Linked DNA regions of Homo sapiens. Each later gene encodes a partner of the first gene's protein in a complex. Each region holds a gene or a part of one and is shown on either strand. Other genes may lie near its edges. The genes, in order: ERCC6L and BEND3. A codon is read from its position in the direction of its gene.

Evidence for each region.
Region 2: the proteins of ERCC6L (region 1) and BEND3 are in contact, whole or in part, in a crystal structure (PDB 5JNO), measured with the Homo sapiens proteins. Residues at the interface, in NP_060139.2 of Homo sapiens: Ala10 (codon at 2,941), Glu11 (codon at 2,938), Ala12 (codon at 2,935), Leu13 (codon at 2,932), Ser14 (codon at 2,929), Pro15 (codon at 2,926), Glu16 (codon at 2,923), Ala18 (codon at 2,917), Ala19 (codon at 2,914), Tyr21 (codon at 2,908), Leu22 (codon at 2,905), Arg23, Lys26, Phe51, Pro52, Asn53, Glu54, Lys55; in NP_001073919.1 of Homo sapiens: Glu252, Gln255, Ile256, Gln259, Leu261, Asp265, Arg269, Val272, Gln273, Pro276, Phe279, Ser280, Phe335, Arg338, Phe339, Gln342, Glu346.

Annotation. Positions count from the first base shown.
Region 1 is NC_000023.11:72,235,944-72,243,485, forward strand, and holds the start of ERCC6L (DNA excision repair protein ERCC-6-like), read right to left. Parts: upstream 3,085-7,542; 5' UTR 2,969-3,084; coding exon 2,901-2,968; intron 2,006-2,900; exon of another isoform or gene 1,888-2,005; intron 1-1,887. UniProt on the Homo sapiens protein: DNA helicase that acts as a tension sensor that associates with catenated DNA which is stretched under tension until it is resolved during anaphase. Functions as ATP-dependent DNA translocase. Can promote Holliday junction branch migration (in vitro).
Region 2 is NC_000006.12:107,105,486-107,112,753, forward strand, and holds part of BEND3 (BEN domain-containing protein 3), read right to left. Parts: intron 678-7,268; exon of another isoform or gene 592-677; intron 1-591. UniProt on the Homo sapiens protein: Transcriptional repressor which associates with the NoRC (nucleolar remodeling complex) complex and plays a key role in repressing rDNA transcription.

The DNA.
Region 1 (7,542 bases):
TACAAGGAAGCCTCCACAATTATTGACTCTGAACTTCAAACTATGTAAGGAGAGAAGTGAGAACCTGAGGGGTGTGCAACAGTGAAAAGATGGAATCAATGAACTATAGGTCCCAACAATATCAAACATTTGTTGGAATTGGTATTCTAGAGGGAGTAAGGTAGAAGATGGAGAGTAGAATGCTTGAACGGTGGTGTAATAATGTAAGTGTAATAAAAAGTCTGATTCTGCTGGGCATGGTGGCTCACACCTGTAATCCCAGTGCTTTGGCAGCCTGAGTTGGGAGGATCACTTGAGTCTAGGAGTTCAAGACCAGCCTGGGCAACACAGTGAGACTTCATCTCTACAAAAATCTTTTTTTTCTTTTTTTTCTGAGACGGAGTCTTGCTCTGTTGCCCAGGCTGGAGTGCAGTGGCGCCATCTCAGCTCGCTGCAACCTCCGCCTCCTGGGTTGAAGCAATTCTGCCTCAGCCTCCCAAGTAGCTGGGATTACAGGTGCCCGCCACCATATCTGACTAATTTTTGTATTTTTAGTAGAGACGGGGCTTCACCATGTTGTCCAGACTGGTCTTGAACTCCTGACCTCGTGATGCACCTGCCTCGCCCTCCCAAAGTGCTGGGATTACAGGCATGAGCCACTGCACCCAGCCTACAAAAATCTTTTAAAAATTAGCCGGGCTTCATGGCACACACCTCTGGTATATGTTTATATGTACAGTAAGTCCTCAGTTAACGTGGTCAGTAGGTTCTTGGCAACTGCAACTTTAAGCAAAATGACACACAGCAGGCCCTTGAATGACACTGGTTCATTCAATATCATTTTGCTGCAACACTGATGAGAAAAAAATTGGTTTTGCTACGTCATTTCACTTAAAGTCAGTTTCCAAGAACCTATGGACAATGTTAAGTGAGGACTTACTGTATACACACGCACACACATCTTTGCTCACTCATGTAAGTGTATCTGTAGAAGAAAATACTACAAGTCTTAGCTTCAAAAGTAAAACTATGTATCTTAACTTTTGAATTGACTCATATAGCTCATCACACACCAGCCTGAGAGAATATAAATAAATGCTTACTCACACTATTGACTTTATTAAAATCTGGCATGGTTTTCTTGAATGGCAATTTTAAATACACATTCCCTAAGACCCAGCAATCGGAATTCCAAAGTGTACACTCAGTTACGAAGTGCACAAAAATTCACACAAAGGCTGCCTATTACAACAAAAGTATAATGGCAAACAATTGGAAAAATCTAAATGAAAGGCCTGGCATGGTGGCCCACGTCTGTAATCTCAACACTTTGGGAGGCCGAGGCAGGAGGATTGCTTGAACTCAGGAGTTTGAGACCAGCCTGGGCAACATGGCGAGACCCTGTCTCTACTAAAAACACAAAAAAAATACTTTGGGAGGCCGAGGCGGGCGGATCACGAGGTCAGGAGATTGAGACCATCCCGGCTAACACGGTGAAACCCCGTCTCTACCAAAAATACAAAAAATTAGCCGGGTGTGTTAGCGGGCGCCTGTAGTCCCAGCTACTCGGGAGGCTGAGGCAGGAGAATGGCGTGAACCCGGAAGGCGGAGCTTGCTGTGAGCCCAGACCGCGCCACTGCACTCCAGCCTGGGTGACAGAGCGAGACTGTATCAAAAAAAGAAAAAAAAAAAATAGCTGGGTGTGGTGGTGTGCGCCTGTGGTCCCAGCTACTCCGGAAACAGGTGGGAGGATCGCATGAGCCCCGGGGGATGGAAGTTGCAGTGAGCTGAGTTAGAGATCGCGCCACTGCACTCCAGCCTGGGTGACAGAGCCAGACCCTGTCTCTAAAAATATATATAAAACAACAATAGTAAAATAATAAATTGGCTGGACATGGTGGCACCCACCTTAAGTCCCAGCTACTAGGGAGGCTGGGGCAGGAGGACTGCTTGAGCCCAGGAGTTCGAGGCTGCAGTGAACTATGATCAGGCCACTGAATTCCAGTCTGGGCGACACAGCAAGACCCTGTCTCAAAAAAAATTAAAGCAGTAAAATTCACAGAGACAGAATAATGGTTGCTAGGGGCTGAAGGGAGGGGGAAATGGGGAGTTTGTTTAATGGGAGTAGTTTCAGTTTTGCCACATGAGAAAAGTTCTGGAGATGACGGACGGCTGCACAACAATATGAATGTAGTCAACACTACTGAACTGTACATTTAAAAATGGTTAGGATGATAAACTTTATTTTTCATAAAACCCAGTTTCTGCACAAAAAGATAAAATTTATGTTATGTGTACTTTACCACAATTTAAGAAAAAATTTAAATTCTCATCCCAACATTACCACGCCCCCCACCCTTAGCCAACTGGTGAATGTTTACTCATTTTTCAACGCCTAGCTCAAATGTCTCCTCTTGCCACGCCATCCCTTAGCTGACCACCCTTGTAGTTGGCCATTCCCTCTTTTATGCCAACACTGTGCCCTGCACGTACATTATACCTCTTACAGCACTTATCAAACCTAGTAATTATTGCTTTACAGATCCGTTTCCACTACTAGATTACAAACAATTTGGGGGCGGGGACCTTGTTTTACTCATCTCTGTATCCCCTAGACTTAGGGCTTGATAAGCTGAAAAGAATCAAGAAGGGCTTGATTAATTAAGGCTCCTCTGGCTTTTAAGGAGACCATACTGGAGGGTCATTTGCCCAAAAGAAGAGGCATCGGGGTCTCCTCAGGTTTTAGAAATCTGGTCAAACATCCAGAGCTGACTCCCACACCCTACTGCGAGAAGAGCGCGAGCGCGCGTCTCAAAAGGCTCCGCCTCAACAGTTCGGGTCCCCAGGAGGATCCGGGGGCCACCCCACCTCCACCCTGGGCCAGGTCGGTTAGCTAGACCCGCCCAGCGGTCCAGACATACCTTAGGTAATGAGCAGCCTGCTCTGGGCTCAAGGCCTCGGCTTCCGGAAACCTTCGGGATGCCTCCATGACCCTCGGATTGGGTTCCAGTTACCCCGGCGGGAGTTTGGAGCTTGGAGCTTGGAGCTTGGAGCTTGGAGCTTAGAGTTTGGAGCTTGAATTTCGCTCACTCCCGCCCCGCGCATGCTCTGTGCGCCGTGGAGAGGGACACAGCCAACCGACGGCCTCGCGGCCGGCCAATCCGCGACCACGCGCTGCGACGCCTCCGCCTGAGCCCCGCCCATGACGGTGGGCGCCTGCGCCTACGCGCGCCGGGAAGCAGAAGGTGATCTCTGCCTTCGAGACACGGAGTGTGCTGCCTCAGTCTGTGATCCCTCGCGTTTCAATCCAATTCAAACCATGCTGCAGCCAATTCGTTCGCGCGTGCGTGTGCCATCATTGTGAGTGGAGGAGACTGCCCGATATGATCCCAGTCATTGCGGCGACCCCTGGAGATCTCCAACGCCTGCGTCCCCCAACCATACCCTGCCCCGCATCCACAGATATCTTCCCTTCCTTGATCGCCAGTACCTGGCACTGACCGTGCTTTGAATTCAAACACCCTGGGAGGCATAGTCCCTGTGATTTAAACTAACATTGAAGAAGCGACCAGACGCGGTGGTTCACGCCTGTAATCCCAGCACTTTGGGAGACCGGGGCGGGCGGATCACGTGAGGTCAGGAGTTCGAGACCAACCTGGCTAAAATGGTGACACCCCGTCTCTACTAAAAATACAAAAAATTAGCCGGGCGTGGTGGCGGGCGCCCGCAGTCCCAGCTACTCGGGTGGCTGAGGCACGAGAATCGCTTGGACCCAGGAGGTGGAGGTTGCAGTGAGCCGGGATTGCACCACTGCACTCCAGCCTGGGTGGCAAAGCGAGACTCCATCTCAAAAAAAAAAAAAAAAAAAAAAAAGGCTGGGTGCAGTGCCTCACGCCTGTTATCCTAGCCTTTTGGGAGGCTAAGGTGGGAGGATCACTTGCACTTAGGAGTTCGAGACCAGCCTGGGCAACATGGTGAGACTCCCGTCTCTTTAAAAAAAATTTTTTTCTTCTCCACAGGGCGTTATGCTGTATTTATTTTCTTAAAAAGAGAGAGAGAAAGAGAGAAGGGTCTTCAAGAATCTCAAACCCTGGAGGTGGAGGCTGCAGTGAGCCAAGATCATGCCACTGCACTCCAGCCTGGGTGACAGAGAAAGACTCCATCTCAAAAAAAAAAAAAAAATTAAAGTTCTTATTTAAGAAATAAGTAACTAGGTTCACATACTTGGTATAATAAAAGGAAGACAAAAATAATTTAAAAAAAAAGAAGTAGTGCTGTGGTCATCATTTCTTCAGAAGCACCAACTAAGATACAGTCATTTTCAAATGCAGAGCCTAAAAAGAAGGCAGAGCCTAGAGCTTAAGGAAATGTGATTGAGTTTAAGTGGCTTGCTTGGGTGACACTAAATAGGAGGTTGTGGGCCAACAAAAATTGTCCTTGTTCATATACTGTTAAGAACACAGACATGACTCCTCAAGACACTAATTTAGCATTCAGTATTGGAAAACTCACCTATTGGCCCAGTCATACATCATATGTCCAGAGAATTTTAAGCTTTTCATAAAATTTATAGACCGTTATGAGTTAAAAGGAATGTTGGAGGCCGGGTTCAGTGGCTCACTGAACCTGTAATCCCAGCACTTTGGGAGGCCGAGGCGGGCGGATCACCTGAGGTCAGGAGTTCAAGACCAGCCTGGCCAAATGGTGAAACCCCCGTCTCTACAAAAATTAGCTGGGCATGGTGGCGGGTGCCTGTAATCCCAGCTTCTCGGGAGGCTGGGGTGGAAGAATCGCTTGAACCCAGGAGGCAGACGTTGCAGTGAGCTGAGATCGTGCCATTGCACTCCAGCCTGGGCGACAGAGCAAGACTCCATCTCAAAAAAAAGAAAAGGGTTGGGGGGAGGTGGGGGATCTTGGAGAACATGGGCTATTTTCCTGGTTTGTATGACTTTAAGGCCTTTATTAAGAGGCCTTTTAGTATACTATTATCCACATTTTTCAGATGTGGAAACAGGCTCAGAGAGATAAATTGACTTCATCTAAGCTTCCTGAGCTAGGAAGCAGCAGAGCCAGAATTCAATACTAGGTCCATATGGACACAAATCTGTGCCGTTTCGCTGTGTCACACTGGAAAGAAGAGGGCAGTGGCGGGAAATGAGGTTGATGAGGCAGTTGAAGGCCAGGTTATGAAGGAACTTGTTTACTCTGCTAAAGTGTTTGAATCACATCTTTTCCTGGAGGCAAGCTTGGATTGGGCTGTGCTATGGTCTGAATGTCCTTCAAAATTCTTGTGTTGAAACTTAATCCCCACCATGGTGGCATTGAGAGGCGGGGCCTTTTAGCAAGTAATGTCATGAGGGATCCTACTTCATGAATAAATTAGTGCCTTATGAAAGGGCTGGAGGGAGCTAGTTTAGGCCCTTTTTGCTCTTCTGCTTTCCTACCATGTAAGGACACACTATTCCTTCCCCTCCAGAGGATGCAGCAACAAGGCACCATCTTGGAAGCAGAGAGCAGCCCTCACCAGATACCAATCCTGCTGGCACCTTCATCTTGGACTCTTCAGCCTCCAGAACCATAATAAATACATTTCTATTGTTTATAAATTATGAGTTTGATGGCCAGGTGAGGAGGCTCACGCCTGTAATCCCGCCCTTTGGGAGGCTGAGGCGGGCAGATCATCTGAGGTCGGGAGTTCGAGACCAGCCTGACGGAGAAACCCTGTCTCTACTAAAAATGCAAAATTAGCCGGGCATGGTGGCACATGCCTGTAATCCCAGCTACTTGGGAGGCTGAGGCAGGAGAATCACTTGAACCTGGGAGGCGGAGGTTGTGGTGAGCCAAGATCACGCCATTGGCACTCCAGCCTGGGCAACAAGAGCGAAACTCCGTCTCAAAAAAAAAAAATATGAGTTTGAGTCTATGGCATTTTATTATAGCAGCACAAAGGAGCTAAGGATGAGTTGAGAGTCCAGGCGCCCTGGATACCCAAAGGATGAGTAGGATGAGAAGAGCAGAATAGGGGAGAAGATGTAGGAGAGAATTCTGCAGAAAGGAAAAGAGAGATGAGAGCACAAAAATCTTCATCTTGAGTCTGGGGAAGGCCATGTCTGGTTGTGCTTTGGCTCAGGGTCCACCATCATCGCTCATATCCGGGGAATTGTTGAGAACTGAAGATGAAGCAAAGCAGGCCCCTGGTGGTTGTTGTAGGCATGCCCCATTGTGGGCTGTGAAGAAAAGCTAAAGAGAACTCCCTCAGGAACCCCGGCTACCTCCTCTCTGCTTCCCAGCTGGCAGTGATGCCTAAAGGCCCTGATCACCGGGAAGGAAGGACCAACACTCGGCTTGCCTGCCCTTTGGCTATTGGATTTTCTAAGCCCCATTTTCACACAGCTGTAGGGCTCCTCCTTTAAACTCCCCAGCTCTGGCTGCTCCTCCCCTCCCCTTCGGTCCTGTAGTCTGCTTCCCTTGGGCCCTTCTTGGTGCCTTCTGGAGTCCCAGGTCTCAACCCAGGGCTCTGATGACCCAGGAAACTCCCCAGCCCAGGCTCCTAGTCCTCCTTTATAAATGGTCACCCAGGCTCACAGCCTGAAAATAAGAGAGAGATTGGGAGGATTTTGAGTGGGTAAATGGAGAGAATCAAAGAGAGTCAAAATAATAGTTACTACTATATCCCTCTTATGTGACAGGCCCCATTCAAAACACTTTACATCGATTAATTATCTGCTGTTCCTCATTATGCATCTACCCCAATCAAGGGCTCCCATTCCCCCAGCGTCTCTCAAGGGAATGGGGTTTATAAAGCTCTCCCAGCTGGGCTCAGTGGCTCACGCCTGTAATCCCAGCACTTGGGGAGGCCGAGGCGGGCGGATCACAAGGTCAGGAGTTCGAGACCAGCCTGACCAACATGGTGAAACCCCGTTTCTACTAAAAATACAAAAATTAGCGGGTGTGATGGCACGTACCTGTAATCCCAGCTACTTGGGAGGCTGAGGCAGGAGAATTGCTTGAACCCAGGAGGCGGAGGTTGCAGTGAGCCAAGATCTCACTACTGCACTCCAGTCTGGGCGACAGAGGGTGACTCCATCTCAAAAAGAAAAGAAAAGAAAAGGAAAAAGCTCTTCCTAGGCTGGGTGCGGTGGCTTACATCTGTAATGCCAGCACTTTGGGAGGTCGAGGTGGGTGGAGTTCAAGACCAGCCTGGCCAACATGGTGAAACCCCATCTCTACTAAAATACAAAAATTAGCCGGCCATGATGGTAGGTGCCTGTAATCTCAGCTACTCGAGAGGCTGAGGCAGGAGAATGGCTTGAAGCCAGGAGGCGGAGGTTGCAGTGAGCCAAGATCATGCCATTGCACTCCAGCCTCTACAAGAGCAAAATTCTGTCTCAGAAAAAAATAAACAAAAAAAGCTCTCCCTAATTATTGTTAATTTTAAAAGGGTGATAATGGTATTGCTGTTTTTTTTTTTAAGGTCCTCATCTGTTAGAAATACAAGTTGGAGTATTTTCAGACAAAATGATATGACATCTGGGACTTACATTAAAATACTCCAGTACAGAG
Region 2 (7,268 bases), on another chromosome or scaffold:
AAGGACATTCTCTAGTGAACCCATAGGCGGCTGGGAGTGGCCCGGGGTACCTTTCTATCAAGTTCTTTGAATAGTCAGTTGCTGTGGAGAGAGCAGACAGACCAGGTCTTTTGGGACAGCAGCGTGAGCCTAATCAGAGCTGCCAGAGGCCTGTGGGCCGGGGAGTCACACAGGACAAGCGGCAGGCCCAGAAATGGGAAGTACTTGGGCTTCCTGCAACCTGGAGGTTCAAATTCCAGCCAGCTGACTCCGGATTTTACCCTGCTAGATCAGAGATGTCCTCGCCACTGTGCTGAGGTGCCAGTCCAGGAAGACCTGGCCCCAGCAGCCCTGACCTCATGCCACTCAGGGGCAAATCCCCCTTACCCCTAAGAGCTGTTTCCAGATGCAAACTGAAGCAAACTCTCACTACCAGAAGATTCCCTTGAGAATGTGGGCCCCAGAACAGGAATGTGATTGGAACCTGAAACAATAGGGATGGTGGCTGTGTGGCCCCTGCCACACACAAAAGGTAAAGTGGAGAGAATATGCTCAGTCATTAACAAAACAAACTCAAGGATTTTAAAAATTTAACCAAGACCTAAACCTTACTTCAATCTTTTCACAATTGCCATATGTCTGATTTGATTTCAAGGAACTTCTCTGCTACAGGTGACATTGACTTCTAAAAATTAAACCTAGAAGAGGGGGACAGTAGTTAGTATTCATGTGGCACAGGCTTCATGTTCTAAGTGTTACATATGTCAACCCACACAGTCCCCACCAGCACTGCTTCTTGTGCAGATAGGGAACGGGGCGGGGGTGGGGTGATTTGTGCTGCCCAAGGGATGCAGCTGAGACCAGGGAGTAGGAAGGACTTCAGGAGACTCCCGGCATGAGAGCTTCATTCCAGCCTTCCAAGGAAGCTGGGACTGAGGAATGGGCCATGACCTCCCAGCTTTCTTTCCCTCTTCCTGCTAAGCTGTGAGCTGGGTGCAGGTGCATGAGCAAGTCAACAAGCCAGATGGGCCAGTCTGTGACCAAGGCAGGAATTAGTGCAGGTGACCCTCCAAAAAATGGAATTCTTTACTAAACTTTGGAGTCAGATGGAACTGCATGAAACCCTGGCTTTTAATCCAGTTTTTTCATTTTTTTTTTCCCCAGAGATGGGGGTCTTGCTCTGTTACCCAGGCAGAGTGCAGCAGTATGATCAGAGCTCACTGTAGCCTTGAACTCCTGGGCTCAGATGATTCTCCCATCTCAGCCTGTGAGTAGCTAGGACTATAGGTGCACGCCACCACACCCAGCTAATTTTTTATTTTTTGTAGAGACAGGGTCTCCAGGTGTTGCCCAAAATGGTCTCAAACTCCGGGCTTCCAGCAACCCTCCGGCCTCAGCCTCCCAAAGTGCTGGGATTTCAGATGCAAGCCACCACACCTGACCCTTAACCCAGCCCAGTTTTCAAAGAGGGCTTTTTTTTTTTTTTTTTTGAGACGGAGTCTCGCTCTGTCGCCCAGACTGGAGTGCAGTGGCACAATTTCGGCTCACTGCAACCTCTGCCTCCCGGGTTCAAGTGATACTCCTGCCCCAGCCTCCCAAGTATCTGGGATTACAGGCATGCACCACCACATCCGGCTAATTTTTGTATTTTTAGTAGAGACAGAGTTTCACCATGTTGGCCCAGCTGGTCTGGAACTCCTGACCTCAGCTGATCCACCCGCCTCGGCCTCCCAAAGTGCTGAGATTACAGGTATGAGCCACTGCACCCAGCCCAAAAAGGTTTTTAACCGAGTTAAAATATTTAGCATCTAACACCAGGCCAGCTGTTTACCTACCCATCCAAGCTGTATTCTGTAATAGGAGCTGGACACATCTACCTCACCTCAAAAAGTTTTTGTGAAAACTACAAAGGAGAAAGTGTCTGACACATAGCACTCAAAGTTACCTATTATAAAGCTTCTTTTTTTTTTTTTAAGGAAAAGATGTTTAAAGTGCATTTTATTTTTTTATTTTTTTGAGACAAAGTCTCATTCTGTCGCCCAGGCTGGAGTGCAGTGGCACAATCTTGGCTCACTGCAACCTTTGCCTCCTGGGTTCAAGCGATTCTCCTGCCTCAGCCTCCCAAGCAGCTGGGATTACAGGTGGGCACCACCATGCCTGATTAATTTCTGTATTTTCAGTAGAGACGGGGTTTTACCATGTTGGCCAGGATGGCCTTGAACTCCTGGCTTCAAAGTTCCACCTGCCTTGGCCTCCCAAAGTTCTGGGATTACAGGTGTGAGCCATCCCGCCCAGCCTAAAGTACATTTTAATAGTGAATTTTTAAGAACTGCAAATTAAATAAAATGGCTTAAAAGATTAAAAAGGTTTAGTAACTTTTCTTTCCAATGAAACATAGAAACTGGAGGGAGGGGGATGAAACCAAATAAAATGCTCTCCCTGAGGACAGGAGGAATGTTCCCATGCCATCCACTCTGGTGCCGCGGGTCTCTGGGTTCACAGGACCGGCTGGGAGCCTCAAGGGTCTCAGGACCCAGCCCCCTTGGCAGTGGCATCCTGCCCAAGGGACTTGCAGGACATGTTCGCAATTTGTTTTTATTTTTAGGCACATCTGCAAATGCAGTTTGAAAAATACCAGTCCTCACAAAACCAGGGCAATTTTCCCCAGAGTTTTTCTAAAGCTGTAATTGTAGCTGCCTTCCTTATTCAGTCAGAGCACAACCTCATCTTCCGCATGCAGCCAAGCACAGCCGCACAACCCTGCCCGCGCGCCTGTGATTTGGCGTCTTAATCTTTGGTCACTTGCGTCTTCTGAGTCTTGAGTAAATGTGCCATCTTCCTCAGCTAAGAAGTTCCACTTACGTTCTCCCCAACCTCGTGGAGGGCTACCTCCTCACATGGCTCACAGGAGACTCTGCGTATTAACCTTGGCATGCAGAAGCTGAGGCTCAAGGTGGAAGGAGGGACCGCACATTCCAGCATCCAGCCATGTGACTGACTGCACAACGGTGACTAATTTTCCTAGGAGGTATAAGCTGAGTTTCCGCTGCACTTCCCATTTTATCAAGTGTTTTATTTTGTGACCACACAAGCTGATTAGGGTTCGGGGCAGTTGGGTGTATACTGCACCCCCAATCCTAAGCAAGCCTCAGTCCTTCGCTCTGCTAGCTCCATGCTCAAACCAAAACAGCCCCTGACATACAAGAAAAGGCCAGTAAATGACTTATTCAATTGAGCAATCAATGCCCTGATACTGATGCAACTGTGTTTCACTAGTCAGAAATAACTGAAAATCAGACAAGAGGAGAGGTGGCCACAGGTAGAAAAAAAATTAAGAGGGTTGATTGATTGATTGATTTGAGATGGAGTCTCGCTCTGTTGCCCAGGATGGAGTGCAGTGGTGCGACCTCGGCTCTCTGCAACTCTGCATCCCGCGTTCAAGCAATTCTCCTGTCTCAGCCTCCCGAGTAGCTGGGACAACAGTCATGTGCCACCACACCTGGCTAATTTTTGTATTTTTCACTAGAGATGGGGTTTGGCCATGTTGGCCAGGCTGGTCTCGAACTCCTGGCCTCAAGAGATCCACCCGCCTCAGCCTCCTAAGGTGCTGGGATTACAGGTATGAGCCACCACATCCAGCCAAGAGGGCTGACTTTAAATACACGTTTCAACTTGGATTAAAAATTGGTGGGGGCGGGGGGCGGTCTGGGCGTGGTGGCTCATGCCTGTAATCCCATCACTTTGGGAGGCCGAGGTGGGAAGATCACCTGAGGTTGAGAGACCAGCCTGGCCAACATGACAAAACCCCGTCTCTACTAAAAATACAAAAATTAGCTGGGTATGGTGGCACGGGCCTGTAATCCCAGCTATTTAGGAGGCTGAGGCAAGAGAATCCTTGAACCTGGGAGATGGAGGGTCCAATGAGCTGAGATAGTGCCGTTGCACTCCAGCCTGGGTGACAGAGCAAGACTCTGTCTCAAAAAAAAAAAAAAAATCGAGGTGGGGCAGGCATAGTGGCTTACACCTGTAATCTCAGCCAAAGACAGGTTGGAACACTTGACTCCAGGAGTTTGAGACCAGCCTGGGCAATACAGTGAATCCCCATCTCTATAAAAAATACAAAAAAATTGCCGGCACGGTCGCTCACGCCTGTAGCCCCAGCACTTTGGGAGGCTGAGGCGGACGGATCACTTGCAGTCAGGAGTTCGAGACCAGCCTGGCAAACATGGAGAAACCGCGTCTCTACTAAAAATACAAAAATTAGCCAGGCGTAGTGGCGGACACCTGAAATCCCAGCTACTCAGGAGGCTGAGGCAGGAGAATTGCTTGAACCTGGGAGGCGGTGGTTGCAGTGAGCCGGGATCATGCCATTGCACTCCAGCCTGGGCAACAAGGGCAAAACTCCGTCTCAAAAAAATCAGCCAGGCATGGTGGCACAGGCCTGTAGTTCCAGCCACCTGGGAGGCTGAAGTGGGAGGATCGTTTGAGCCCAGGAGGTTGAAGCTGCAGTGAGCTGTGATCGTGCCACTGCACTCCATCCTGGGTGACAGAGTGAGACCCTGACTCAAAAAAAAAAAAAAAAAAGGAAGCTGGGCACAGTGGTGTGCACCCATAGTCCCAGCTACTCAAGAGGCTCAGGCGGAAGCATTGCTTGAGCCTAGGAGTTCAAGATCAACCTGGTCAACACAGCCAGACTCTGTCTTACAAAAACTGGAGGGAGAGCATGGTATCAGGTGACCTGCTGAGAAAACTTCAGCTCTAAAACAATAGTTTGTAAAAGTGGTTTTCATACAAAATTCACAGACTAACATGCCAAGCATTCACTGCCACTCTTAAAACAGCCCCTCTCCTGTTTAACACTCTGAGGGCTGATACTGGCATGGAGAGCTCTTAGTTTGACATGTGTGGGGAACTTGTGGCAGCTAATCCCAGAAACCACAAGAGCTCTGGGTTGAAACAATGATGTTGCAAGAAATACTGACGTATCAGAAGCAGAAGAAGAGCATTATCAAATTTGGAGAAGGAAAGAGACTGTCAGAGCAAGGTGATACAAAGCACCAAAAAAATCAGTTTTTAGCACATTTTTTTGTGTGTGACTTTCTTTTTCTTTTTGAGACAGAGTCTTGCTCTGTCACCCAGGCTGGAGTGCAGTGTGGCACGATCTTGGCTCACTGCAGCCTCCTCCTCCCAGGTTCAAGCGATTCTCCCGCTTCAGCCTCCCGAGTAGCTGGGATTACCCACCACCATACCTGGCTAATTTTTGTATTTTTAGTAGATACGAGGTTTCGCGATGTTGGCCAGGCTGGTCTGCAACTCCTGGCTTCAGGTGATCCACCCACCTCGGCCTCCCAAAATGCTGGGACTACAGGTGTGAGCCACTGCACCCAGTCATTTAAGTTTCATTTTAAAAATTTATCCCGGTCAGGCAGTGGCTCACACCTGCAATCCCAGCACTTTGGGAGGCCGACACAAGTAGATCACTTGAGCTCAGGAGTTCGAGACCAGCCTGGCCAACATGGTGAAACCCCGTATCTACTAAAAATATAAAAAATTAGCCAGGTGTGGTGGCGCATACTTGTAGGCCCAGCTACTTGAGAGGCTGAGGTGGGAGGATCGCTTGAGCCCGGGAGTCAGTGGTTGCAATGGGCCTAGACTGTGCCACTGCACTCCAGGTTGGGTGAAAGAGAAAGACCCTGTCTCAAAAATTCCCAGAGTAAAATTGACTCTCTAGGAGTGTATCATTCTATGAAAGATAACACATGTAGGCTAGGCGTGGTGGCTCACGCCTGTAATCTCAGCACTTCGGGAGGCCGAGGTGGGCAGATCACCTAAGGTCAGGAGTTTGAGACCAGCCTGGCCAACATGGTGAAACCCCGTCTCTACTAAAAATACAAAAATTAGCCGGGTATGGTAGTGCATGCCTGTGATCCCAGTTACTCGGGAGGGTGAGGCAGGAGAATCACTTGAACCCAGGAGGCGTAGGATGCACTGAGCCGAGATTGTGCCACTGCATTCTAGCCTGGGTGACAGAGTGAGACTGCATCTCAGAAAAAAAAAAAGAGAGAGATAACACATACACATCCCTATAAACACCCCTAAAAAGATACAGAATAGGTTTCCCATTCCAAAGAGTAATTCTACAATTAATTCCCCAAGCTTACCTTAGCCAATGATGGGAACAATACAATTAGGTTAGCAACCAAAACCTATCACTTAACACCAAAATTAAGCACCAGGCCAGGCGCGATGGCTTACACCTGTAATCCTAACACTTTGGGAGGCTGAGGCCGGTGGATCACTTGAGGTCAGGAGTTCAAGACCAACCTGGCCAATAAGGTGAAACCCCATCTCTACTAAAAATACAAAAATTAGATGGGTGTGGTGCCACGCACCTGTAATCCCAGTTACTTGGGAGGCTGAGGCAGGAGAATCACTTGAACCCAGGAGATGGATGTTGCAGTGGGCCGAGATCGCGCCACTGCACTCCAGCCTGGGCACCAGAGTGAGACTCCGTTTCAAAAAAAAAAAAAAAAAAAAAAAAATTAAGCACCAGGAAAAAAACACTACATCCCAGCCTCCCATATACAAACACCAAATCATTTTTGCTGGTTGGCTAGCGACCTTCATACTCTATGCTTCTACATTATACAATTTGAGGTCTTTAAACTTTTCATCATGGTGTCAATACAATTCATATAAACATGCTGTTTTCCTTCTCATTGTTTCCAGGGACTTTCTAGGCAGCGCTAAAAAGTAGCAGGTGAGACATTAATATAGGATATTACATTTTCACCTAATCAAACCTGTGTCAGGGCTCACTCCAATTTTTCTCTTTGTAATTATTGGACATTCTGCTATGCTTCTGCTCACACAGGGGTGCTTAGGAGCCAAGAAAGAACCCACAGGGAGAGGATGTAAAGAAAATGTGTCAATATGGCACCTGTTAATAGATTGTTGGGATGCTGACTGTCTCATCTGCCAGTTCCTAACCAGCCTATCGTCTTGCTGGGCATGGAGAAGGTAGGCGGAATCACATAAAACTTTCCCATTATATTAGTTCTTCAGCAAGAAGATGGCATCTCTGGTATCAACAACAACAAAAAAAAACGCTGGGCGTGGTGGTACACGTCTGTAATCCCAGCACTTTGGGAGGCCGAAGCTGGCGAATGACCTGAGGTCGGGAGTTCGAGACCAGCCTGACCAACATGCAGAAATCCCCTCTCTACTAAAAATACAAAACTAGCCGGGCATGGTGGCGCGCGCCTATAATCCCAGTTACTTGGGAGGCT